Linked DNA regions of Homo sapiens. The protein of the gene in region 6 purifies or fractionates together with the protein of the main gene of each other region. This does not show direct contact. Each region holds a gene or a part of one and is shown on either strand. Other genes may lie near its edges.

The links.
Region 1: the proteins of PLD2 (region 6) and DNAJB14 purify together in Homo sapiens (affinity purification with mass spectrometry, with the first as the bait; one large-scale study listed by BioGRID). This does not show direct contact.
Region 2: the proteins of PLD2 (region 6) and SPAG1 purify together in Homo sapiens (affinity purification with mass spectrometry, with the first as the bait; one large-scale study listed by BioGRID). This does not show direct contact.
Region 3: the proteins of PLD2 (region 6) and UGGT1 purify together in Homo sapiens (affinity purification with mass spectrometry, with the first as the bait; one large-scale study listed by BioGRID). This does not show direct contact.
Region 4: the proteins of PLD2 (region 6) and HERC4 purify together in Homo sapiens (affinity purification with mass spectrometry; 2 studies listed by BioGRID and IntAct, with this or other methods). This does not show direct contact.
Region 5: the proteins of PLD2 (region 6) and DNAJC7 purify together in Homo sapiens (affinity purification with mass spectrometry; 4 studies listed by BioGRID and IntAct, with this or other methods). This does not show direct contact.
Region 7: the proteins of PLD2 (region 6) and CAV2 fractionate together in Homo sapiens (co-fractionation; one study listed by BioGRID). This does not show direct contact.

What each region holds. Positions count from the first base shown.
Region 1 is NC_000004.12:99,905,119-99,908,618, forward strand, and holds part of DNAJB14 (dnaJ homolog subfamily B member 14), read right to left. Parts: intron 1,494-3,500; coding exon 1,399-1,493; intron 1,036-1,398; exon of another isoform or gene 920-1,035; intron 589-919; coding exon 479-588; intron 1-478. UniProt on the Homo sapiens protein: Acts as a co-chaperone with HSPA8/Hsc70; required to promote protein folding and trafficking, prevent aggregation of client proteins, and promote unfolded proteins to endoplasmic reticulum-associated degradation (ERAD) pathway.
Region 2 is NC_000008.11:100,161,587-100,165,086, reverse strand, and holds part of SPAG1 (sperm-associated antigen 1), read right to left. Parts: intron 2,809-3,500; 5' UTR 2,807-2,808; coding exon 2,667-2,806; intron 1-2,666. UniProt on the Homo sapiens protein: May play a role in the cytoplasmic assembly of the ciliary dynein arms. May play a role in fertilization. Binds GTP and has GTPase activity.
Region 3 is NC_000002.12:128,097,700-128,101,199, reverse strand, and holds part of UGGT1 (UDP-glucose:glycoprotein glucosyltransferase 1 precursor), read right to left. Parts: intron 1-3,500. UniProt on the Homo sapiens protein: Recognizes glycoproteins with minor folding defects. Reglucosylates single N-glycans near the misfolded part of the protein, thus providing quality control for protein folding in the endoplasmic reticulum.
Region 4 is NC_000010.11:67,991,784-67,995,283, forward strand, and holds part of HERC4 (probable E3 ubiquitin-protein ligase HERC4), read right to left. Parts: intron 900-3,500; coding exon 823-899; intron 541-822; coding exon 416-540; intron 1-415. UniProt on the Homo sapiens protein: Probable E3 ubiquitin-protein ligase involved in either protein trafficking or in the distribution of cellular structures. Required for spermatozoon maturation and fertility, and for the removal of the cytoplasmic droplet of the spermatozoon.
Region 5 is NC_000017.11:41,979,440-41,982,939, forward strand, and holds part of DNAJC7 (dnaJ homolog subfamily C member 7), read right to left. Parts: intron 2,963-3,500; coding exon 2,816-2,962; intron 2,569-2,815; coding exon 2,416-2,568; intron 1-2,415. UniProt on the Homo sapiens protein: Acts as a co-chaperone regulating the molecular chaperones HSP70 and HSP90 in folding of steroid receptors, such as the glucocorticoid receptor and the progesterone receptor.
Region 6 is NC_000017.11:4,820,541-4,823,930, reverse strand, and holds the end of PLD2 (phospholipase D2), read right to left. Parts: intron 2,139-3,390; coding exon 2,024-2,138; intron 1,292-2,023; coding exon 1,067-1,291; 3' UTR 501-1,066; downstream 1-500.
Region 7 is NC_000007.14:116,505,890-116,509,041, reverse strand, and holds the end of CAV2 (caveolin-2), read right to left. Parts: intron 3,072-3,152; coding exon 2,921-3,071; coding exon of another isoform or gene 2,883-2,920; 3' UTR 501-2,882; downstream 1-500. UniProt on the Homo sapiens protein: May act as a scaffolding protein within caveolar membranes. Interacts directly with G-protein alpha subunits and can functionally regulate their activity.

The DNA.
Region 1 (3,500 bases), on a different chromosome or scaffold from region 6:
TTCCTTTATGTCCTGACCTCTTACACATAAAGTATATGGTGAAAAAAATACATCATAAAAAAGTAATATTTGCTTTTATTTAATCGATATTTTGCAAAATGAAGAGTAAAGTCATTTTCCCCTTAATGATATAAATCTATGTAACATCAATCATTGCTCTGTCTTTAGTTTTGTCCTTTAGAGTATTTTTTGCCTTTAATGTCAACACATTACCTACCACATTAAATTGTTATCAAGTTCAAATATAGCATTTCTGTCCTTATCCACAGTGGAAGAATAGAAATGTAAATTAACAACATAAGACAAATTTATTACTTAAAGTAACTATTTTAAAAAATTAGATAGAAATTTAAAATCTGGTACACTTGCAGTAATAGATTTGGCACTTAAAAGTTTAAAAGAGCACAAGCTCTTTAAAGGAAGCTAGGTCAGAAATAGCAACAATTCATTTTTTGTAAAACTTCACTTGGCTACTTACGATCTGGGATATAAGGAATAAGGAGGATTAGAGACCATCAACTGGCTTAATAATGACACGAGGATCAATACAATTATGGGCATCAGCTGGATAAACACAGAAAAACCTCCCTATAAAAAATGATCAAAGAATAACAAATTGTAATATAACTGTAGTTGTTAATAATACAACAGTTGTCATACATTTTGAGGCAGAAAGCGCATTTGAGATCATCTAGTTCAGTGCTTTCAAATCTGCGTAACCATGCCAATAGGATGATTCTTAAATATAATTATCCAGGCATATCACCAGGAGATTCTGATTTGAAAAACACTGATAAAATTTGATTTCATTTTATAGATGAGGAAGTCTTCATTTCTTTCTCTTTCTCTTTCCCGACTCCCTCCCCCCCACACACAGAGACGCTATCAATATGCTGCAGGCTGTAAAACCATTTTTTACCTTGGATTTGAGGGTAGAAGATGGGAGCTGATGAGTGGCAAAGCTGGGGGCCAGGCCTTTTAATTTCTAGTCTAGTGCTCTTTCCATTTACCTTTCCACTTCATGTAATTAAATTGCTATAGGCAATTAGGTATAACTGCATTAGAACAAGGAAAGTTACCTCCAATTCAAGTTTTTCAGTACTCTAAATTCTTCAGGGCCAACAATAACAAGTTACCTTCACAACATGCATAGTGCAGGTGTACCTTCATTAGAATCATAGAATAACAAATCTAAAGGGGTCATACTATCCAACCACCCCTGGCTGACCTCTCTTCCTATTCCTACAATGTCCCTAAGGATTTTCTAGTCTCTACCAAACACCTCTAGTAAGAGAAAACTCATTATTTCCTACAACTACTTGCCCTCTTTTCAGACAACTCTAATTACTTTTCCTGAGCTGAAATTTGCCATTTTGTGATTTCTAGTCATAAACGTACATCTCCTCTTTCCTCTTCTCTTTCATGTCCACTATGTCGATGCTGATGTTGTTGGCTATAACCAGCTCTTCCATTTGAAAAAGAATGTACACTACCTAAAAAATTAAAAGCAAGGTTAAATTAGGGAGAGCAATTATGATCAGAAAAAATACATTTTCTTTCACATTTTTCTTTAATTTTAAAAAATTACTAAAATAATGCATGTGTATTTTCAGTAGTAAATACTTATTGCCCTCTCCTCTTGTAAGTGAAGGGTGGACAGAAATAGGAATGATTCTTCCCAATCTGCTTCCGTTACAGGTAGAAGTTCCTTCTTTATGAAAACTTGACTAAGAGTTTCTCTACACACATAGAGGTTTTTATAAACCTCTTTTGTTTATGATTAGTTGTGATTAGTTGTTTTTATAAATGTTGGATTATTACTTTGAAACTTTGCTTTTTGCATTTATCAATGAATCATAAACATCTCTAGAAATCAAAAGATAGTGTTCAAATTCATTTTTAAAAAATAGCCCTATAATATATCTTGGTATAGATGGACCAGAATTTATTCAAACACTCTCTTGCTGATAAACATTCAAGTTGTTTTCATATAAGATGACCAATCAGAAATGGCTACCATTGACAAACTATGTTATAACTAGCAAAATAACTGCAAATCAAGTATCAGAAGAAAATTTACTACTGCCTGAAAGATTTCTGATTGTTCCTAGTATACTTCCAGTCAAAATTACTAGTTTTAATAATTTTTCTGTAATTATGTATTCTAACATGTCAAAACACAGGTTATATTTTCAGTCATTAATTTGCATTTATATATCCTCTTTCCTTCAAGGATGCTTTGCAAAACGTCCTATCAATGACCACAACCTTGCCAGGCATGGTGGCTCACCTCTGTAATCCCAGCACAGGATTTGGGAGGCTAAGGTGGGAGGATTGCTTGAGGCTGGGAGTTCAAGACCAGCCTGGACAACATAGCAAGACCCTGTCTCTACAAAAAAGTTTTAAAAAAATTAGCCAGACATGTGGTACATGTCAGTAGTACCAGCAACTTGGGAGGCTGAGATGGGAGGATTGGTAGAGCCTAGGATTTTGAGGCTGCACTGAGCTATGATTGCCCCAGTGTACTCCAGCCTGGGCAACAGAGCAAGACCCTGTCTCTATTAAAAAATAGAAAGAAATGACCACAACCTTTCTCAATAATATTCAGAGAGGGCCACCAGGTCCAATTATACTGCTACATTCATGAAGATTCTCTTAATGTTGAATGGGATTTACTTCAGCACCTGAAGTAAATTTTGTAAACAAGACTAAAGCTATAATTTTAAGTACCTTAGAGGAGCTACATTCAAGGAAAATAGATTTCCACAATAACAACTCACAGTACAGTAAGTCCTCACTTAACGTCATCAAGAGGTCCTTGGAAACTGCAACTTCAAGTAAACATGATGTACTATATGCCTTAGCAATTTAACTGTTGTTTATATCAATTAGCCTGCGGTAAAATTAGTTGTTATACAGAACATTGTTTCACTTACAGTCACAGTTTCCAAAAACCTTATGTTAAGTGACCACTTACTGTAAATGTAAGTGGAGTTTGATACTATTTATGTTGGTACTATAAAATCTTAGTATCACTACAATATTTCACTTTGATAGTCTAGTTAAAGTTAGCTATTTCTATTTTAATGTAAACTTAAAAATCCACTTACTTTGTATATAACCTATGAATCAGATTTTCTACTGTTTAAATGGAAATAGAGATGAGTACCTCTACATATATCCAAATTAGCCAACTATAATGTTATTGATAAAATATTTACAAAGATCTCTAGGGAAGCAATGTCAAATAGTTATCCAGGTTTAAGTAAAGAAAACCATTCATAATTATAATAGTACTTACCTAAGACATTGCCATTACATTTCCTGCTTACATTCCCTTTCAGCTTTATATAAAATACAGAATATCTGTACTCTTCATTTTTTTAAATTAAAATATGTTCTAGGAAAAAGGCAGGCTATTATAAAAGTAATAACCCTAATATTTTTCTCCTGCTTTCATGAAAAACCATTACAGGATCGTAACACTACAAGAAATGTAG
Region 2 (3,500 bases), on a different chromosome or scaffold from region 6:
TGTTTGTTGTCTGTACTCTTCATGTGAAGAGGGAATTCATATGAATTAAGGGTAATAGTGTCACAGAAGATTGCTACCTCACACACAAACAGGTAGTTCATTTGGGGTGAATGGATTCTCCAACTATTTTATAACTGGGAGCTTCTGATAATTTTTTGGAAAACATTTGAAACATTAAAACTTACTGAATCTTACATATTTGTCTGAGTTAAAAATATAAAAAGAATTATGGATCATGGATGGTAATTTGCTTGATAGCATCTGGTTTGCAGACTCATAGTTTGATTTTTAATTAAATATATAGCTTATGATGAAGTCAATAAACATATCAATGAATAGTTAACTATATTAAATTTTTATCAGGTTGGGCACTGTGGCTCAGGCCTGTATTCCCAGCACTTTGGGAGGCCAAGGCAGGTGGATCACTTGAGGTCAGGTGTTCGAGAACAGCCTGGCCAACATGGCGAAATGGACTCTCTACTAAAAGTACAAAAATTAGCCGGGCGTGGTGGCAGGCACCTGTAATCCCAGCTATGCAGGAGGCTGAGGCAGGAGAATCACTTGAACCTGGGAGGCAGAGGTTGCAGTGAACCGAGATCGCACCACTGCACTCCAGCCTGGGTGACAGAGTGAGACTGCATCTCAAAAAATAAAAATAAAAAAAAATTTTATCATTTACTTTTTCTAAGTTTCAAATCTCATGTATCATATAAATTTCAGTTTAATATCAACCAAAGAAACAAAATTTTAATCTAACAAAAACAATATTTTCTCTTCAACATATATATGTTCATATGTTCATTTTGTACATGATATTAAGCTCATAAATTCAATATTAGAGACTAGCAGAAAGAGAATTTGGACTTCCTTTTCAACAAGGAGTTTCTGTTCATAAATTTTTTTATTTCAAAGAGGTAGGAAGAAAATGGCAGATAAACAGCTTAAACAAAACACCCTGAAATCCAACCACTCAAGGAACAGAATTCCTTCCTTAGAGAGTTAAATGGAGACATCTGTTCCTTTTATTTTAAGGAAAATCAGTCCTTTCCCATTCTTTCTTAGGTCTGTTCACTCTTACATTTCTAGAAAAATATAAATAAATTTCATTTCCAAATTAAATTTTAAAAAACAATTCCAAGTTCAATATATTATCACTGAATTAGGCTATTCATAAAATTTCTTGGAACCAACATTATTATAACTGTAGCTTTCCAACTGTTTCATCCAATAAACTTTTCATTTTTATTTATCCGTCCTTGACCAAGTATACATGATAATATTCTGCTAAAAAAGGGAAAACAATTGATATTATTGATTTTTCACTTTCCATTTTAAAAATGATGATGTTATCACATCAGCATCTGGCTGTGGACCAACAGGGAAGAAAGGAAGCTAAAGGTGATGAAAGAGAAAAAGGGAAGAACCCAGTGATAAGGAATAGGGATAGAGGAAATAAAGAACCACCACAGGGTAATAGGAATTCTAGATGTCCTGGAAAGCAGTTCATGCTCCACAAGTGTCTTCTGCAATAGAACTCTGGTATCCAAATGAAAATAGCTCAAGAGGCCCAAAGAGGCCCCAGCACTTTGGGAGGCCAAAGCAGGAGGATTGCTCAAGTCCAGGAGTTTGACATCAGTCTGGACAACATAGTGAGATCCAGTCTTAAAAAAAAAAAAAAAGAAAGAAAGAAAGAAAAGAAATCCAAAAGAGGTGTCACAGGTTGGTGGTACTCAGGACAGTGTTTCTTCAAGTGGGTTCCTTGAACACCTACATATCAATCAGCCAGCTCCATTGTTAAAAACACATGTTCCCTGGCCCTACCCCAGATTTTTTGAAGCAGAATCGCTGGGAATAGGGCCCTCAAATGTGCATTTTTAACAACCACATTTGATGTATATTCAGTTGGACAGTCACTAGAATGGAGCTCTATCCTGAGAAGGTCCTAATTCCCTGCCTTCTGGTATTACCGTCAGGCCTCCCCACCACCCTCCATGTGATCAGTGTGCGGTGGGTCACCCTCCCTTGTTGTCAGGTGATATGAAGTGGGAAAGTGCCACCAGCCTAGGCTGGTGAGATAAGCTTACCTCCTAATAGCTTTTTTTATTTTTTTTATTATTATTTTTTATTTTTTTATTTTTTGAGACTCTGTCACCCAGGCTGGAGTGCAGTGGCACAACCAGGGATCACTATAGCCTCCAAGGCCCAAGCAATCCTCCCACCTCAGCCTTCTGAGTAGCTGGGACTACAGGCCAAGGTAATTTTCGTATTTTTTGTAGAGATAGGATTTCACCCTGTTGCTCAGGCTGGTCTTGAACTCCTGAGCTCAAATGATCCACCTGCTTCAGCCTCCCAAAGTGCTGGGGTTGCAGGCGTGAGCCATCACAGCCCATCCTAATGGCTGCTTTCACAGCTACTTTACCTTCTCCTAGAAAATGTAGAGAAGGCAAGAAAAATACCCTCCTGGATATTAATTAGCCTGCGTCTCATGCTGGCAGTAGACCTAGGTGGAACTCTCCAAACTAACCATAGGATCAAAACCACTATTTTGGGACCTACCATGCATGGGCAAAAACAGATATTTCTAATGTAGCTTTTACCTTTAGAAGGTAACAACAAGATAATTAAAACTGTCATACTAAAACATGTAATGATTTTAAAATGCTTACCTGAGCACGCAAAGAATTTTTTCCAGATGTTTAACATCTGAACATTTTTCAATGTATTTGAAATCTAGATGTTCAATGGGAATTTTGAATGTTTTTGTTGTTCCAAAGCCCCACAATGATGGATAATCTTTGGTGGTCATAGCTGAAATACAATATTTAAAAGTTATTAATCTAATGTATAAATAATACTCAATTTGGATAGTGGTAACCATGTAGGTACTTCTTTGTATTTTTTTGAATTTTTAAAAATTTTTTGTAGAGACAGAGTCTCCCTATGTTGCCCAGGCTGGTCTCTAACTTCTGGCCTCAAGCAATCCTCCTGCTTCAGCCTCCCAGAGTGCTGGGATTATGGGCATGAGCCATTGTGCCTGTCCCACCTAGGTGTTCCTGGACCAAACTGAGGGTTGGCCTGCTAGTTTTGTGGCCCAATAACGAGATGCAGATGAACCGAGGAGGAAGACGTTATTTACTTCTGCAACTGGCTACAGGGAGAAGGCCTGGAAATTATCACCAGACCAACTCAAAATTACAAAGTTTTCCAGAGCTTATATACCTTCTAAGCCATATGTCCATGTGTAAGCGTGCATTCATCTAAAGACATAAGTGATTAACTTCTTTTAATCTATATCTAAAGTCTGAGTGCTGAAGACCTTCCTCTGGGGTCTCAGTAAATTTACTTAATTTAAATGGGTCCAGGTGCTGGGGCAATTACCCTTATCTTGTCTCCTGCTAAATCACAGAGGTTTGGGGAGTTCCTTCAGACCCTCCATAAACTTGTTTGTGGAGGTCTGGGGAGTTTCTTCAGACCCACAGTAAAACTTGTTTAATCCTAAG
Region 3 (3,500 bases), on a different chromosome or scaffold from region 6:
GCTCTGCTAGCTCTGGAGGTGAATACTAAGTGGATTCTAATAAGCATAGCTCATTTCTATGAGTTGCCTACATGTCGTATTACCTTGGGAAACTGTATACAAATAGCCACAGGAGAAGGGGCCTAAAAATAGTAAACCAAAAGGGCAAATGTAGCTCTTACTTCACATGCCAAGGAAAAAAATTAATAAAAATAAAACAAAATGGCAAATGACCAGGGATATCATGAAAGGGGGAGATGTCTGTGATAAGGAAGTTGGTGAAGAAAACAGTATACCCTGTCCACTTCACAGTGATCAAAGAAACTGAAAATATTGAGCAATTAGGGCTGGCAATTTTAGCATTCTTTCTCAAAAGTCCATAGTTTTATGCTGTAAGAATCTTCTAGGACAATGATCAAGAATGTACAACTATCAAGAAATTAGTGTAAATAAAAGTGAAAGTAACAAAATGTAATTCAGGGTAAGAATGTTAAACAGAGGCCTGGCGCGGTGGCTCACACCTGTAATCCCAGCACTTTGGGAGGCCGAGATGGGTGGATCACCTGAGGTGGGGAGTTCCAGACCAGCCTGACCAACATAGAGAAACTCCATCGCTACTAAAAAAAAAAAAAAAAAAAAATACAAAATTAGCCGGACTTGGTGGTGCATGCCTGTAATCCCAGCTACTCAGGAGGCTGAGGCAAGAGAATCGCTTGAACCTGGGAGGCAGAGGTTGCGGTGAGCCGAGATCACGCCATTGCACTCCAGCCTGGGCAACAAGAGCGAAACTCCATCTCAAAAAAAGAATGTTAAACAGAATATCACAAAAACACCTGTTACAGTTAATTGTACAAAATGATTCAGAAAGTGATAGTAAATCTTGGCCAGGCCCGGTGGCTCACGCCTGTAATCCCAGCACTTTGGGAGGCCAAGGAGGGCAGATCACCTGAGGTCAGGAGTTCAGACCAGCCTGGCGGCCAACATGGTAAAACCCCATCTCTACTGAAAATATAAAAATTAGCCAGGCATGCTGGCACACGCCGGTAATCCCAGCTACTTGGGAGGCTAAGGCAGGAGAATGAGAATGGGCTTGAACCTGGGAGGCAGAGGTTGCAGTGAGCCAAGATGGCGCCACTGAACTCCAGTCTGGGTGACAAAATGAAACTCTGTCTCAAAAAAAATAAGTAGGGTGGGGGGGGGGGTTGTAAATCTCAATGACAGATTTTATACCAAACAAATCATCCAAAATAAGATTAGCAAAAAGGAAAAGAAAAACTTTAGTTTTTAGAGTCCAGCTCAGGCAGTCCAGCTCAGGCAGTCTCAAAATATCTTCAGTCACTGCTTTTTTGTTTGTTATTTGCTTTGTTGGGCTTTTTTCCCCCATAATAAGAACTCTTAAAAAAGAGCCACTTCACTTTTACAACTATGCTGTATCAAATAAAGTTCTGACATTTGACAAGCTTGACCCATTTATCAAGTTAGTTATCACCATGAAATACATACAATGGTTTTGTCTTTGTTTTGCCACTTCTATGCTGAGAAAGAAAGGCAGAGAGAGGCGATGGAAGGAAGTCTATTTAGCAGAAAGTCTGCTAGGCTCCTGAGCTAGCCAAGACCGGCTGCCACATGCCCCCTCCCACTGGTCCTTTTAGCAGTATCAAATGAGGCTTTTTCCTTAAGAGGTGCAACCATTCGTTCACACAATCAACATGGCAAAATTCTTCATCCACATTTTTCTAGGAATTAAGGGGAAAATGTTAGAATACAAAATTCTAGAGGCCAGGCATGGTGGCTCACACCTGTAATTCCACCACTTTGGGAGGCCAAGGCAGGTAGATCACTTGAGCTCAGGAGTTCCAGACCAGCCTGGCCAAGATGGTGAAAGCCCATCTCTATAAAACATACAAAAATAAGCCAGGGGTAGTGGCTCACACCTGTAGTCCCAGCTACTAGGGAGGCCTAGGTGGGAGGATGGCTTGAGTCCAGGAGGCAGAGGTTACAGGGAGCTGAGATCACACCACTACACTCTAGCCTGAACAACAGAGACAGGCCTTGTCTCAAAAACTCTCAAAAAAATATATATATATAAATTGAAGATGAAGAAGACAGACCACAAGGCTGATTGGAGTGATGTGACAGTCCAAATTTCTAGCACGTTCAAACACTAAGACTTACCAAGTGCTTGCTGCTCAATCTACCCACATTTATCCTTTGGAAAGTCTCTGCTAGTTCCACCTCTACATCACTTGAGATACAATCAAATAACCTTCCATCCATAAGCATTTAAGCCCTACCTATACAGACAGGTATCTCATTATATTTATTTACAAACACTAGCTAAAAAGCACACTTGGAATACAAAATTTCTCATGAAATTACTATGTTTCACTAATTTTAAGACAACTATTGTTTTATGAAAAATTCTACCCATTTTAATCGTAAGATAACTTCTTTCCCTTTTTTTTTTTTTTTGAGACGGAGTCTTGCTCTGCTGCCCAGGCTGGACTGCAATGGCGTGATCTGGGCTCACTGCAACCTCCGCCTCCTGGGCTCAAGTGATCCTCCCGGTCAGCCTCCCAAGTAGCTGGGACTATAGGCACGAACCACCACACTCAGCTATTTTTTTCTGGAGAGACGGGGTTTCCCCATGTTGCCCAGGCTGGTCTCAAATTCCTGGACTCAAGCAATCCACCCACCTCAGCCTCCCAAAGAGCTGGGATTTACAGGCATGAGCCACCGTACCTAGCCACCGTTTTATCATTTAAAAAGAAAGATTGAGCTGCATGGGCATAATCTCCTAATCTGATGCTCAGGCACATGCCAGCACGCTCAGCTAATTGTTGCCAGGCTGGTCTCGAACTCCTGACCTCAGGTGATCCACCCACCTTGTCCACCCAAAGTGTTGGGATTATAGGCGTGAGCCACCGTGCCCAGCCTTCTTCCACGTTCTTAAGGGAAAAATGTCCTCTTTCCCCCACGTTGCTAAGCCCTCTTCTCTTCCTTTTATCAATCACCTCTTAAAACTTCCTTCAAATAAGGAGAAAATTTGAATACAACTGGCCAGGCACAGTGGCTCACATCTGTAATCCCAGCACTTTGGGAGGCCAAGGTAGGCAGATCACATGAGGCTAAGGAGTTTGAGACCAGCCTGGCCAACATGGCGAAACCCCTTCTCTACTAAAAATACAAAGATTAGCAGGGTGTGGTGGGGCACTTCCGTGATCCCAGCTACTCAGGAGGCAGAGGCATGAGAATCCCTTGAACCCAGGAGGCGGAGGTCACAGTGAGCCAAGATCTCACCACTGCACTCCAGCCTGGGCAACAGAGCGAGACCCTGTCTCCAAAAATAAATAAATAAATAAACATAACCCTCTCTTTCCTTGTTATGCTTTTTGGAAAGTAACATACTAACTTATCCAACACAGTTATTTGTCCAAAGTTCCTACATAGCTCTATAAACCCACATAGCCCTTGTCCTACTGAATGATGCTATGTCCTAACAGCCTTTGTACAATACATCC
Region 4 (3,500 bases), on a different chromosome or scaffold from region 6:
AAGGCCAATCCTAAAATGGCTACATTAAATATTTTATGTTATCATTTAACATATCTCTATGCACATGAAAGAACTACAACTTATACATATTTAATTAAGATCTTTAAAAATATCCATGGATATTTTTTTTTGGAGACAAGTTCTCACTTTGTTGCCCAGGCTACAGTGCAATGGTGTTAATCTCAGCTCACTGCAGCCTCGACCTCCTGGGCTCAGCTGATCCTCCCACCTCAGCCTCCCAAGTAGCTGAGACCACAGGTGTGCACCACCACGCCCAGCTAATTGTATTTTTTTGTAGAGACAGGGTTTTGCCATGTTGCCCAGGCTGGTCTCCAATTCCTGGGCTCAGGCAATCTGCCTGGTGCTGGGATTACAGGCATGAGCCACTGTGCCTGGCCCAAAATGCTTTTCTTACTTGGCTATCTCCACAGGAAACCTTCCAGAAGGATAGCTCAGCCATTTCTGAATTAGAGCTTCATTCACTGTCCAGATCTGCTTTGTCGGATTGGGACATCTGAAGTCATCTGGTGGCCCACAGTTCTAAATTTTCAAATAAGATTAGTCAGAGGGAAGAGATATTATATATAACTCAAAAACCAAGAAATTCCCACCATATATTTGTTCTTTAAACAGAATTAAATCTCTCCTGAACACCTGAAACAAAAACCTATCAAATAGATCAGAAAAAACTTATTCTGTAGACTTAAGGGGAAAAAAACTAAGGCAATTACTTTGTAACATATAAAGAACATTAATAATGGGTTTTTAAAATTTGTCAAAATTATTGGAGCTATTTAATTATTTACATGACTATATTATTACCTGGGGACTAGAGTAATGTGAAAAGCTTTGATCTCCCCCTGAGAAAATTCTTTTTACACAGAAATATTCTTCAGAATCTGTAATAAAAATGTAAAAAATTAAAAGCCAAGATTTACATAACATATTTCAGAGCATCAATATGCCATTAGATTTTCACATAATCATCTTATTTAATAAGGCCTCCCATTCATGGACTTCATGGTATAAAGTGACTTGAAATATTCTGACTGCTATGGGGATGAGACTGACCAAATGATGAACATTAAACGATCCCACAAGCATAAGCAGCATTTGGTGAAGTTTACAAGCCTTTCTTCTGCCCTGCACCAAGAAAAAAAGCTTTTTCTAATCTGCATCTCAGTATATTTCAGTTTAAACCAAAGATGATTTAAAAAAAATAGAACAAAAGCTACAAAAGATAGCTAGAAGGAAATAAAAATCAAGAGTATTTATTCTTGGCGAGGCACAGTGGCTCATGCCTGTAATCCCAGCACTTTGGGAGGCTGAGGTGGGAGGATCATTTGATGTTAGGAGTTCGACGCCAGCCTGGCCAATATAGTGAAACCCCATCTCTACTAAAAATACAAAAATTAGCCAGGCGTGGTGGTGTGTGCCTGTAATCCCAGCTACTTGGGAGGCTGAGACAGGAGAATCGCTTGAACCCAGGAGGCGGAGGTTGCAGTGAGCCGAGATCACCCCACTGCACTCCAGCCTGGGCCAGAGCATAAGACTCCACCTCAAAAAAAAAAAAAAAAGAAAGAATTGAACTGGGCTACAGTGGCACATGTCTGTAGTCCCAGCTACTTGGGAGAGTGAGGCAGGAGGATGGCGTGAGCCCAGTTCAAAGCTGCAGTATGCTATGACTGCATCTGTGACTAGCCACTGCACTCCAGCAAGCAACATAGCAAGACCCATCTCTAAAAAAAAAAAAAATTATTCTTAAAAAGAAACAGCAAACAAAAATTAAAACTTCTGGAGTAAATATTTCATAATGCAGAATTTTTTTTTTCAATATAGGTGTACAAGATAATACATACAGCTCTTTGTTGGCAGCTATTTGTCAGTAAAAGCCAAATTAGGCCCCAAAGTGAATACATTAATAAGCAAATTTATTAGGAATAAAGAAAGGGCAACAAAGTTTCTTTTGAAAAAGATATTCCGGGCCTCTTTTTTTTCTTTTCTTCTGCTCCCCAAACTGGAAAGAGTATCTATTACCAAAAATATTGCTTGGCTAGTCCATAGTCTATCCCTGTTATCCTATTCCCATTCCTTAGTTGACTAATTCTTCACCTTGTATTATTTGTGACCATGGCTGCTATAGAATTATCCATTCTTTTCAAGGAAATGACCACATGTTAATTTCCTTGATTATTCCTTACAAGCAAGCACAATGTTTTATTTGTAAAAGAAATCAGTAAATACCTGTCCATACAAATATGCAATTGTTATCTAGGTTATACCAAAAATGAGCTTCAGAGTTTAGAACAATAATTTGATAATTACTATCAAATTTTCCGTAAGTCACAAGAATACCCTAAGGCCAAAAACAAGTTTTAAGAATAGAATAAAAGGGTAAATCTTTATTAAATAAGCCAATTATTCAACCTAAAATCTTTTTTCTAAATAATTCTCACAAATCTATATGGAATTGCTCATTTCCTCAAAAGATTTAGCAGGATGTTATTTATTTACTCTTAAAATGTGATTGTGCCCTCTATAAACAATTCCCTACAAGATGGTTGACTAATCTACAGTACATGAATGGGTTTCTGGAGGCTATGAGTTAGGTACCAAAAGTTAAGTTTCCTTAATTTCCTTTTTTTATTTTTATTTATTTCTTTTTTGAGACGGAGTTTCACTCTTGTTGCCCAGGCTGGAGTGCAGTGGCGCGATCTTGGTTCACCGCAACCTCCATCTCCCAAGTTCAAGCGATTGTCCCACCTCAGCCTCCCAATTAGCTGGGATTACAGGCATGGGCCACCACTCCTGATTAATTTTTTATTTTTAGTAGAGACGGGGTTTCTCCATGTTGGTCAGGCTGGTCTCGAACTCCCAACCTCAGGTGATCCGCCCACCTCAGCCTCCCAAAGTGTCAGAATTACAGGTGTGAGCCACTGCACCTGGCCTTATTTTTATTTTTTGAGACAGGTCTCACTCTGTCGCCCGGGTTGGAGTGCAGTGGCATGATCTCGGCTTACTGCAACCTCAGCCTCCCGAGTAACTGAGATTACAGGCGCCCACCACCACATCTAATTTTTGTATTTAGTACAGATGGGGTTTCACCATTTTGGTCAGGCTGGTCTCGAACTCCTGACCTCAAGTGATCTGCCCACCTCAGCCTCCCAAAGTGCTGGGATTACAGGTGTGAGCCACTGCATCCTATCCTTAATTTCCTTTTAATCACTACTCGAAAAAGTTTGAGAAACCTAGTCATTTGTCCTGTACAACTTTATGCAGACTGGATTTTGCTGACTTTATCTTTGTGGTTTCTCCTAACATTTGGCTTGGTCTTCTGTTCTGTAAATTGGTGGTTGAATCTAGACAGGTTTCAATCACCATTTGGTTATTTCAGTAAAACTACTACATGGAGGCAGGAGAGTAGTTCCATCAGGAAACACATAATTCCTTTGAGAAGAATTTTCACTGAGTTCTTTTTTGTGGTGGTAGTAGGCATTGAT
Region 5 (3,500 bases), about 37 Mb from region 6:
GGCCAGTAGATCACTTGCGGTCAGGAGTTCAAGACCAGCCCGGCCAACATGGTGAAACCCTGTCTCTACTAAAAATATAAAAATTAGCTAGGCATGGGGGTGGATGCCTGTAATCCCAGCTGCTCAGGAGGCTGAGGCAGGAGAATTGCTTGAACCCTGGAGGCAGAGGTTGCAGTGAGCCAAGATGGCACTACTGCACCCAGACTGGGCTCAGTCTTAAAAAAAAAAAAAAAAAAAAAAAGGCCGGGCGCGGTGGCTCACGCCTGTAATTCCAGCCCTTTGGGAGGCCGAGGTGGGTGGATCACGAAGTCAGGAGTTCCAGATCAGCCTGGCCAATATGGTAAAACCCCGTCTCTACTTAAAATACAAAAATTAGCTGGGCGTGGTGGCGCACACCTGTAGTCCCAGCTACTCGGGAGGCTGAGGCAGAAGAATCACTTGAACCCTGGAGGCGGAGGTTGCAGTGAGTCGAGATGGTGCCACTGCACTCCAGCCTGGGTGACACAGCAAGACTCCGTCTCAAAAAACAAAACAAAACAAAAAACAAAATCCCAATAGATTTTCTTAGTGGAAGAGATGGTAGGTCTGTTCACCATTCACAGGTCAGGTCCTCTTTTTTTTTTTTTTTTTGAGACAAGTCTTGCTCTGTCGCCAGGCTGGAGTGCAGTGGTGCGATCTCAGCTCATTGCAACCTCCGCCTCCCGAGTTCAAGCGATTCTCCTGCCTCAGCCTCCCAAGTAGCTGGGACTACAGGCGTGCGCCACCATGGCTAGCTAATTTTTGTATTTTTCATAGAGACGGGGTTTCACCATGTTGGGCAGGATGGTCTCAATCTCTTGACCTTGTGGTCCGCCCACCTTGTTCTCCCAAAGTGATGGGATTACAGGCGTGAGCCACCATGCCCAGCAAATTTTTTGGCAGACAACTTAGAGTGAAGACTGACTGAATTAATTAATTAATTTTTGAGATGGAGTCGCACTCTGTAACCCAAGCTGGAGTACAGTGGCGCAATCTCAGCTCACTGCAACCTCTGCCTCCTGGGCTCAAGAGTTTTTGGTGCCTCAGTCTCCTGAGTAGCTTGGACCACAGGCATGCACCACCATGCTCAGCTAATTTTTTTGTATTTTAGTAGAGAGTACAATTTTTTTGGTATTTTGTATGTTGCCCAGGGTGGTCTTGAACTCCTGAGCTCAGGTGATCTGCCCGCCTTGGCTTCCCAAAGTGCTGGGATTACAGGCGTAAGCCACCGCGCCCAGCTCACAGGTCAGGGCCTCTTATCTCTGACAGCCCACAGTGAGCAACAATATTGACAATAGGTGTGCTTTATATCATGCTAAATCTTTTTGGGAAATTAAAATCTGTGAGTGTTTATAGGAATGTATGACATACATAAATGTCAGCATACACTTTGCAGTGGGTAAAAAAGAACTTCCAGATAATAGGAAAATGCTCATATTCCTTACCACATACAGCCCTTATGGCCTGTGAGCTCTGATCCAGCTACTTGCCGGCCTTCCACCACCACCTGCCTCTAGCACCCTATCCCTTTATCTTCCCTAGACCAAGCCCCCTGCAGATCCCCAAAGAGGCCATGCTTTGCTTTTTTAGTGGGGAGGGATGGAGTCTCACTCTGTTGCCCAGGCTGGAGTGCAGTAGCGCCATCTTGGCTCACTGCAACCTCCACCTCCCGGGTTCAAGTAGCTGGGATTACAGGTGTGCACCACCACACCTGGCTAATTTTTCTTTTTTCTTTCTTCTTATTATTTTTTTTAATTGAGACAAAGTCTTGCTCTGTCGCCCAGGATGGAGTACAGTGGGACAATCTCGGCTCACTGCAACCTCCGCCTCCTGGGTGCAAGCGATTCTCATGCCTCGGCCTCCCGAGTAGCTGGGATTACAGGCGCCCACCACCACACCTGGCTAATTTCTGTATTTTAGTAGAGACGAGGTTTCACCATGTTGGCCAGGCTGGTCTCAAACTCCTGACCTGGTGATCAACCTGCTTTGACCTCACAAAGTGGTGAGATTACAGGCATGAGCCACCGCGCCCAGCCTAATTTTTGTATTTTTAGTAGAGACAGGGTTTCACCATGTTGGCCAGGCTGGTCTCAAACTCCTGACCTCAAGTGATCTGCTTGCCTTGGCCTCCCAAAGTGCTGGGATTACAGGCATGACCCATGGGGCCATGCTTTTCTGCACTTCCAAGCCTTCCCTTGCTAGTGCTCGCCTCCTCAGAGCTCACTGCACACTGTGAACCTGCCACATTTGACTGCATTTGTTTGACTCCATGTCTATTACTGTTTGGACCAGGGATCAGATTTGGCCCAAATAGACTCTCCCTCTGGAGCATCTTTGGAAAAAATTCTAACATTCTACAGCTGTCAAATTCATCCCAGGCTGCCCCAGCCAACTCACCACCCATATTCATGCCCTCCTCATCTAGGTCCTGTCCACTGTCATAGCGAGTCTTTTTCTTGGGATCAGAGAGGATAGTAAAGGCCTCTCCAACTTCCTTGAACTTCTTCTCCTCCTCCTTCTGAACCTCAGCACTGGCTCCACTATGCCGATCTAAAGTGGGGAGTAAAAGAACAACTCAGTGGAAATCAAAGTTTCAAGAAAACAAAGTTTAAGAGAAAAACTACTTTCTGTCTAATTTTGGAATTTGGCACTTCCCAAAATTTGGAGGGTCCACAAGTCTGCAACACCTTATTCTCAGCTGAAGGACCTCTCCAAGGGGTCCCCTCTGGACTGAGTGTGGCAGTTGGCCTGCCCTGCGGGTTCTTCCCACTGAGCCCACTCCCCGCACCTACTCTACCTGGATGGTGCATCAAGGCCCGTTTCCGATAAGCTTTCTTGATCTCGTCCTCAGAGGCATTCTTGTCCACTCCTAGAATCTTGTAGTAATCTTTCCTCTTACTCTTCTTCAGTTCCAGCTGCGCATTTTTTAGGAGCTGTTTGTGTTCTACAGGAAGACATCTGGCATCAGTGGACAAATCTGACTCTGGTTTTTTCCTCACCAGGTCTCAGCCCAGCTGCCTGGGAGTTAGAGGCCTTGTTAACCATGCCAGGGACTTTTACGGTGCTTTCTTCTGGAGATTAGAAAAAAAATCTACTCGGCCAGGCACGGTGACTCATGCCTGTAATCGCAGCACTTTGGGAGGCCTGCATCAATGAGAGATGCAGGTAAATGAGACAGAAAAGGGAACTCTAAACACAGGTTTGCTTCTATTTCGGTAGCACGAAAGAAAGGAGGGGCCCTTGGCCCAAGATGGGAGGAATCAAGCTTGACAGAATGGATCACCCGAGGTCAGGAGTTCGGGACTAGCCTGTCCAACATGGTGAAACCCCATCCCTACTAAAAATACAAAAAATTAGCCAGGCGTGGTACCATGTGCCTGTAATCCCAGTTATTCGGGAGGCTGAGGCAGGATAATTGTTTGAACCTGGGAGGCAAAGGTTGTAGTGAGCTATGATCATGCCATTGCACTCCAGCCTGGGTG
Region 6 (3,390 bases):
CTAGTCATGTAAGTATTATTCCCATTTCCCAGCGGGGACCACTGAGGCCCAGAGAAGTGAATGACTTGACAAGTTCACCTAGCTTCTCATTGAGGAGTCCAGGATTTGGGTCCAGGTCTTCCTGACCTTAAGCCTATACCCTCAACCACTCCCACAGGGCCTTCATTAAGCCTCTACCAGGGCTGTTGCTTGAACAAGAGGCAGCCTCTCTAGGTCCTTCTCAGAGCATCTCCCTCACCTGCGGTTGTGATAGCAGCTCCACAGTTCTCCAGGTGCCCTGGTTGGGCCCTGCCCGTCCTTCTACCCAGGCGGCACTGTGTCAACACCTTCTCCTCTCAGGAGCCAGGTGACCGAGCTCCCGAAGCCACAGATAGGTAGAACAGAGGTGGAGAGAGGAGAGTGGAGGAGGGTGGAGATAAGGTGAAGGGGACTGGTGCCCCGTGTGGGCAGGAACGGGAGGCTGGAACGAGCAGTTAGTTCCTCCAAGGAAGACGCATGAACCTTTTCTACACCTTTATTTATGAAATGCTTATTGAACGGATACAAAGTTAGTGTCTGTCAGCAGGCTGGTGGAGGGAGTTAATGTGCCCTCCTTCCTTCCCCTGGTGGGGGCTGAAGCCAGAAGTGGCTTTATCCTTCCCTCCACCTTGGCAGCAATGGGCTGGGAGGGCCCTGGGACAGGGAGGGGGTTCAAGGGCAGGAAGAGGAAGGGAACAATGGGTAGTAGGGCCTGGGGCAGAGCCCCCTTCTCCTGGAATAAGAGGCTTGACCCTGCTCACCCTGGCAGGAGCTGTGCTTCTCCTTTGCAGCATGGAGAAGTGGTTTGCACTGGGCAGCAGGGGGGATGAGCTCTGGGACTCTCTCCTCCTCCCCAGCCCAGGGTTGGGAGTGCCCTTTTCAGCTATTTCTCACGTAAGGGTCCTCTGTAACACCTCTAGTTCCCTTCAGGAATGCCTGCCTCCCCAGATCTCAAAGGGCACTGCCCTCAGTCCTTGGGGTTAAGGGGCAGGGAGCCAGACGTGGTGGGGCACAGCAGCTGGTGACCTCTCCCTGACGGGGGCCTCAACTATGTCCACACTTCTAGGGGGATCATGCCCTCCTTGCTACCCAGCGGGGGCAGCAAAGACTCATCCTCTAGGAACTTGAGGGGGAAGTGGACCAGGTGGCCCTGGACCTGGGTGAGCTCAGACCGAGCCAAGGGGGGACTGACCGTGGCCAAGGGCTCCACGGCCACGTACTCCCGGAGAGTCCGCAGGGAACGCGTGGCATTGGATGGCAGGCAGCGGAAGATCTGTGGGCGGGGGCATGGACGCCAGTAAGGCTTGGGGAGACTCTCCCAACAATCTAAGTCCAACTAGGCTAGACCCCTTCCCCCATACCATCTCTCCATACCCCCCGTTGACCCTGGGCCACTAACTCTCTCTCTCTTTTTTTTTTTGAGACGGAGTTTCACTCTTTTTGCCCAGGCTGGAGTGCAATGGTGCGATCTCGGCTCACTACAATCTCCACCTCTCGGGTTCAAGTGATTCTCCTGCCTCTGCCTCCTGAGTAGCTGGGATTACAGGTGCCCACCACCATGCCCGGCTAACTTTTGTACTTTTTTTTTTTGAGACAGAGTTTTGCTCTTGTTGCCCAGGTGGCTGGAGTGCAATGGCGTGATCTCGGCTCACTGAAATCTCTGTCTCCTGAGTTCAAGAGATTCTCCTGCCTCAGCCTCCCAGCCACACCTAGCTAATTTTTTTGTATTTTTAGTAGAGATGGGGTTTTGCCATGTTGGGAGGCTGATCTCAAACTCCTGACCTCAGGTGATCCACCGGGCCTTGGCCTCCCAAAGTGCTGGGATTACAGGCATGAGCCACTGCACCCGGCCTGGGCCACTAAATCTCTTGATAGCAAATGTCCCCAGGCCCTCATCCCCCTTCCAATAATGACTGTATGGTGGCGCTTCTCTCCATCCTACCCTGAGCAGGATAATCCACAAATTTCCCCAGGCCACTCTCCCCCACCCCTCCCAAGTTCCCACCTGCTCATAGATATTGGCGTTGCTCTCAGCCATGTCTTGCCACAACTGGAAGAAGTCATCACAGATGGGGTCTCGGAGATCCAAGTCTGGCCGGGTATTTGCTCCAAGAATCACACTATAGGAGAAAGGGGTCCCAGCAGGGCCAGATTAAGATCCTTAGAGAACCTGAGTACCAGAAAAGTTACATTGTCCCTACTCAGGTAATTCAAAATTGGCTGGGTGCGGTGGCTCACGCCTGTATTCCCAGCACTTTGGGAGGATGAGGCAGGTGGATTGCTTGAGCTCAGGAATTCAAGACCAGCCTGGGCAATATGGCAAAACCCCATCTCTACAAAAAAATACAAAAATTAGCCAGGCACGGTGGCATGTGCCTATAGTCCCAGCTACTTGGGAGGCTGAAGTGGGAGGATCACTTCAGCTGGCGAAGTCGAGGTTGCAGTGAGCCGTGGTAACGCCACTGAACTCTAGCTGGGTGACAGAGCAAGACCCTATCTCAAAACAAACAAACAAACAAAAACAAAATAAATGCAATATAAAATAGTAAAATAAGTGTAAAAGAAGCCAACAGAGTTCTGATTTGTCTTGACTTTGATGACTACCTTGATGCTTTAAAAAATTATTTTTATTTTAAATTTTCTTCTTTTTCTGTTCTTTCCCCAATCCTCAGAACCTGTGAAAAAAATTACTTTTAAAAGATTTTTTTTTTGGCCGGGCACGGTGGCTCATGCCTGTAATCCCAGCACTTTGGGAGGCTGAGATGGGCGGATCACGAGGTCAGGAGATCGAGACCATCCTGGCTAACACGGTGAAACCCCATCTATACTAAAAATACAAAAAATTAGCTGGGCATGGTGGCGGGCGCCTGTAATCCCAGCTACTCGGGAGGCTGAGGCAGGAGAATGGTATGAACCCGGGAGGCGGAGCTTGCAGTGAGCCGAGATCGCGCCACTGCACTCCAGCGTGGGTGACAGAGCGACTCCGTCTCAAAAAGAAAACAAACAAACAAACAAAACACAAAAGTTTTTTTTTTTTGGCCGGGCGTGGTGGCTCATGCCTGTAATCCCAGCACTTTGGGAGGCGGAGGCGGGCAGATCACGAGGTCAAGAGATCTAGACCATCCTGGCTAACACGGTGAAACCCCGTCTCTACTAAAAATACAAAAAATTAGCCGGGCGAGGTGGCGGGTGCCTGTAGTCCCAGCTACTCGGGAGGCTGAGGCAGGAGAATGGCATGAACCCTGGGCGGCGGAGCCTGCAGTGAGCCGAGATCGCGCCACTGCACTCCAGCCTGGGCGACAGTGAGACTCCCTCTCAAAAAAAAAGAAAAAAAAAAAAGATTTTTTTTTTTTTTTGGCCAGGGGCGGTGGT
Region 7 (3,152 bases), on a different chromosome or scaffold from region 6:
GAACATTTTAAAAAGCCAAGCACCTGCTTTATTATTATAGGTTGGTCGTTTTTCCAGATGAACTGACAAGAAAATGTATGCCAACATCAGCAACTACTCTTCACATACTCACTTTCCAAAAATAATTTTGGACTCTAGTCTAGCTTCATGGTACAGGTATCCAAGTGCCTGTGATTTATATTGTTACTTTCTTATTTTAAAAATTGGAAACAAATTTCAGTTTATTTAGGATTAGCAAGAAGAGACTATAAAAAAGAAGAAGTATGGTGGGTGTGTGAACAGGCTATTTTATACTATTCATCAAATGATAGAACATTTATATGGAACCTCTTTAAGTGCTGGAAAACAAAGAATTCAACTACTAATGTAATAATTTTTAAAAATACATTCCCAAATAAGCAATAACTAATGTATTTATTATCTATTTTGAGTTTTTAATAAGGTAAAAATAAGTATGAAAGATTCCATATTTACTGTAATAAAAGCAATACACACATTTGTAGGCTTTTAGAAAATTTATTATGAATTCCGAGAAGTCTGCTCATCATATACCTCCCCCAGCCCCAAATAAAACAAACAACATGTTTGTACATAAAGCCTGGATTTACTTGGTACAAAATTTGAGTCTTTGAAAAAAATAGTTAATGGAAAATCTCAATAAAAATTCATTTTGAAAGTAACCAGTACTGTTCAGAAATAAGGAAGTCATGTTACTTGAGAAGTCAAACAGTTTTATTACAGAACTATGTGTATATATTTTGGGTTTAAAACTTGCCAATAGCTGTTTGAAAGGATAGCTCATAATTTATTCAAATAGATATTTTATTAATCAAATGTTTTTGGTTTATCAACATAACCAAATGTATAAAAAATGTTTTTAAATACAAGACATAACTATAAAGTCATGAGGCTGATTGACCTTTTAAACTAACATAATAAAATCTATATGGTCAAAATGAGTGGTGATGCTTTAAGGTAATGATTATGCGTCCCATCTAAGGATGCTGCAATGGCCTAGGGCAGTTTTGAAATGTCTCTTTGCAACTACCTTCAAAAGGATATGAGCTTCATAATTTAATCATTCATTTGATTTGGTCCCCAATATTATTCCAGTTCAATCATCATTTATATTCACCAGTCCTGGCGATTTTGAAAAATCTTATTAATCTTATTTGTCACTTATTAGCGTATTCAAAGGAATGTCAATTGAGGTTCTGATGGTAATTCTGAAATTTAAGCATTTACACACTTTTAAGATGTGTAAATTTTAGTAACTACTCACATTATAGACTTGTTTTTGGTATATGTCTATCATTTTGAAATAATGAGATTTTTCTTTTTTCTTTTTTTCTTTTTTTCTTTTTTTTTTTGAGACAGACTCTTGCTCTGTTGCCAGGCGGGAGTGCAGTGGCATGATTTTGGCTCACTGCAACCTCTGCCTCCCAGGTTCAAGCAATTCTCCTGCCTCAGCCTCCCAGGTAGCTGGGACTACAGGTGCATGCCACCATGCCCAACTAATTTTTTTGTATTTTTAGTAGAGACGGGGTATCACCATGTTGGCCAGGATGGTCTTGATCTCCTGACCTCATGATCCACCCGCCTTGGCCTCCCAAAGTGCTGGGATTACAGGGGTGAGCCACCATGCCCGGCCCAGAAATAATGAGATTTTTCAAAGCAACAGTGATTCATCACACTGAAATAGGACTCTACAGTTCAAAATGACAAGAATAACTTTATCCTGTGTTACATACCAATATTAGAGAAATCTTAAAAGTTTGTAGCTGTTAGTTTTTAGTTTATGCATGTAGTTCAGTAGCCCAAGTTGACAACTCCCCTGTCTCTCTACATGAATCACTGTAGTTGAAATTGTACTAAAGTATCAGAAGTAACATTTACTGTAAAATGTTAAATAGCACCAATATTACTTGAAAGTAAAGTGAGACATTAATAGGAATGCTGACACAGATTTAATTTCTAACTACTAGAGAGAAAGCATCTCCTAGACAAAATACTATTTAGATATGAATTATTTTAAGATCACAGCCAGAAAAATGTCATAAAACATTTTAGATTTTGCTTGGAAAAGTTAGAAAAGAAAGCTTTGTGTATCGCTCTTTTATCTTTTATTTCCAAAGAAGATGTACAAATGCTTACATAATCAGAACAGTGCAATCTTACCAATGAAGTTTACCTTGTGGGAGCTACATTTACTTATTTCATATATTAGTTCAACAACATAAATATAATAAAAATGCTTTTAAGCAATCTGATTAGAGCAACATTTATATTAACTACAAAATATACAGTAAAATGAAACATCTTGTTAAATAGGCCTGTAGGAAAACAATATTTTAAAGGAATACATTTTCATGAATCTACTTTCATATTTATTTGTTTTATTGTATCTTATAGTTACTATAATCGTTGTGTGCTTTTGTTACTGCAATTTCCAGGATCATTGTATATTCTCAGTATGCCAGTGACTATATATGTAAAGGTAATTTAAAAAGTATTACTCCCAGAGTAAAAACAGACAAACAAATAAGAAATCTCATTTTTAATGGGAAGTTGTGCATAAAACTATTGTAGTATTTTTATAGAAATGTCCCTTAATCATTATAAGTTCATCATTATAAAATGTATACTATTGTACTAAAGCAAAACTGTCTGCCTTTAAATCTAAGTGGTGTCAACTTACTGTATAATTCTGGTTACAAAGTTAGATATGAAATCTTTGGCTATTAATTAGAAAAGCATTATTTGAAAAGACCTGTCAATAAACATTTCTAAATGTGGTTGCTCATCTTAATAGTTTTCTTAATTAGAACAGCTAGGAAATGAACAGAACAGTGGTGCTTTTATGTTATAATAACAAAGAAGTATTACAGTATCCCAATCTCCAGACCTGGGGTCCAAGTATTCAATCCTGGCTCAGTTGCAGGCTGACAGAAGAGAAGCATCGTCCTACGCTCGTACACAATGGAGCAATGATAACATCTGTCACACTCTTCCATATTGTCTGCACTGAAGGCAGAACCATTAGGCAGGTCTTTACAAAAGGCATTAAAATCCTGGAAGGAAGGAAGAGAGATGTGTGAGGATTGTTGCTGTTACCAAATAAGGTCTGTCTTGTACATGTATGAAAAGATAAA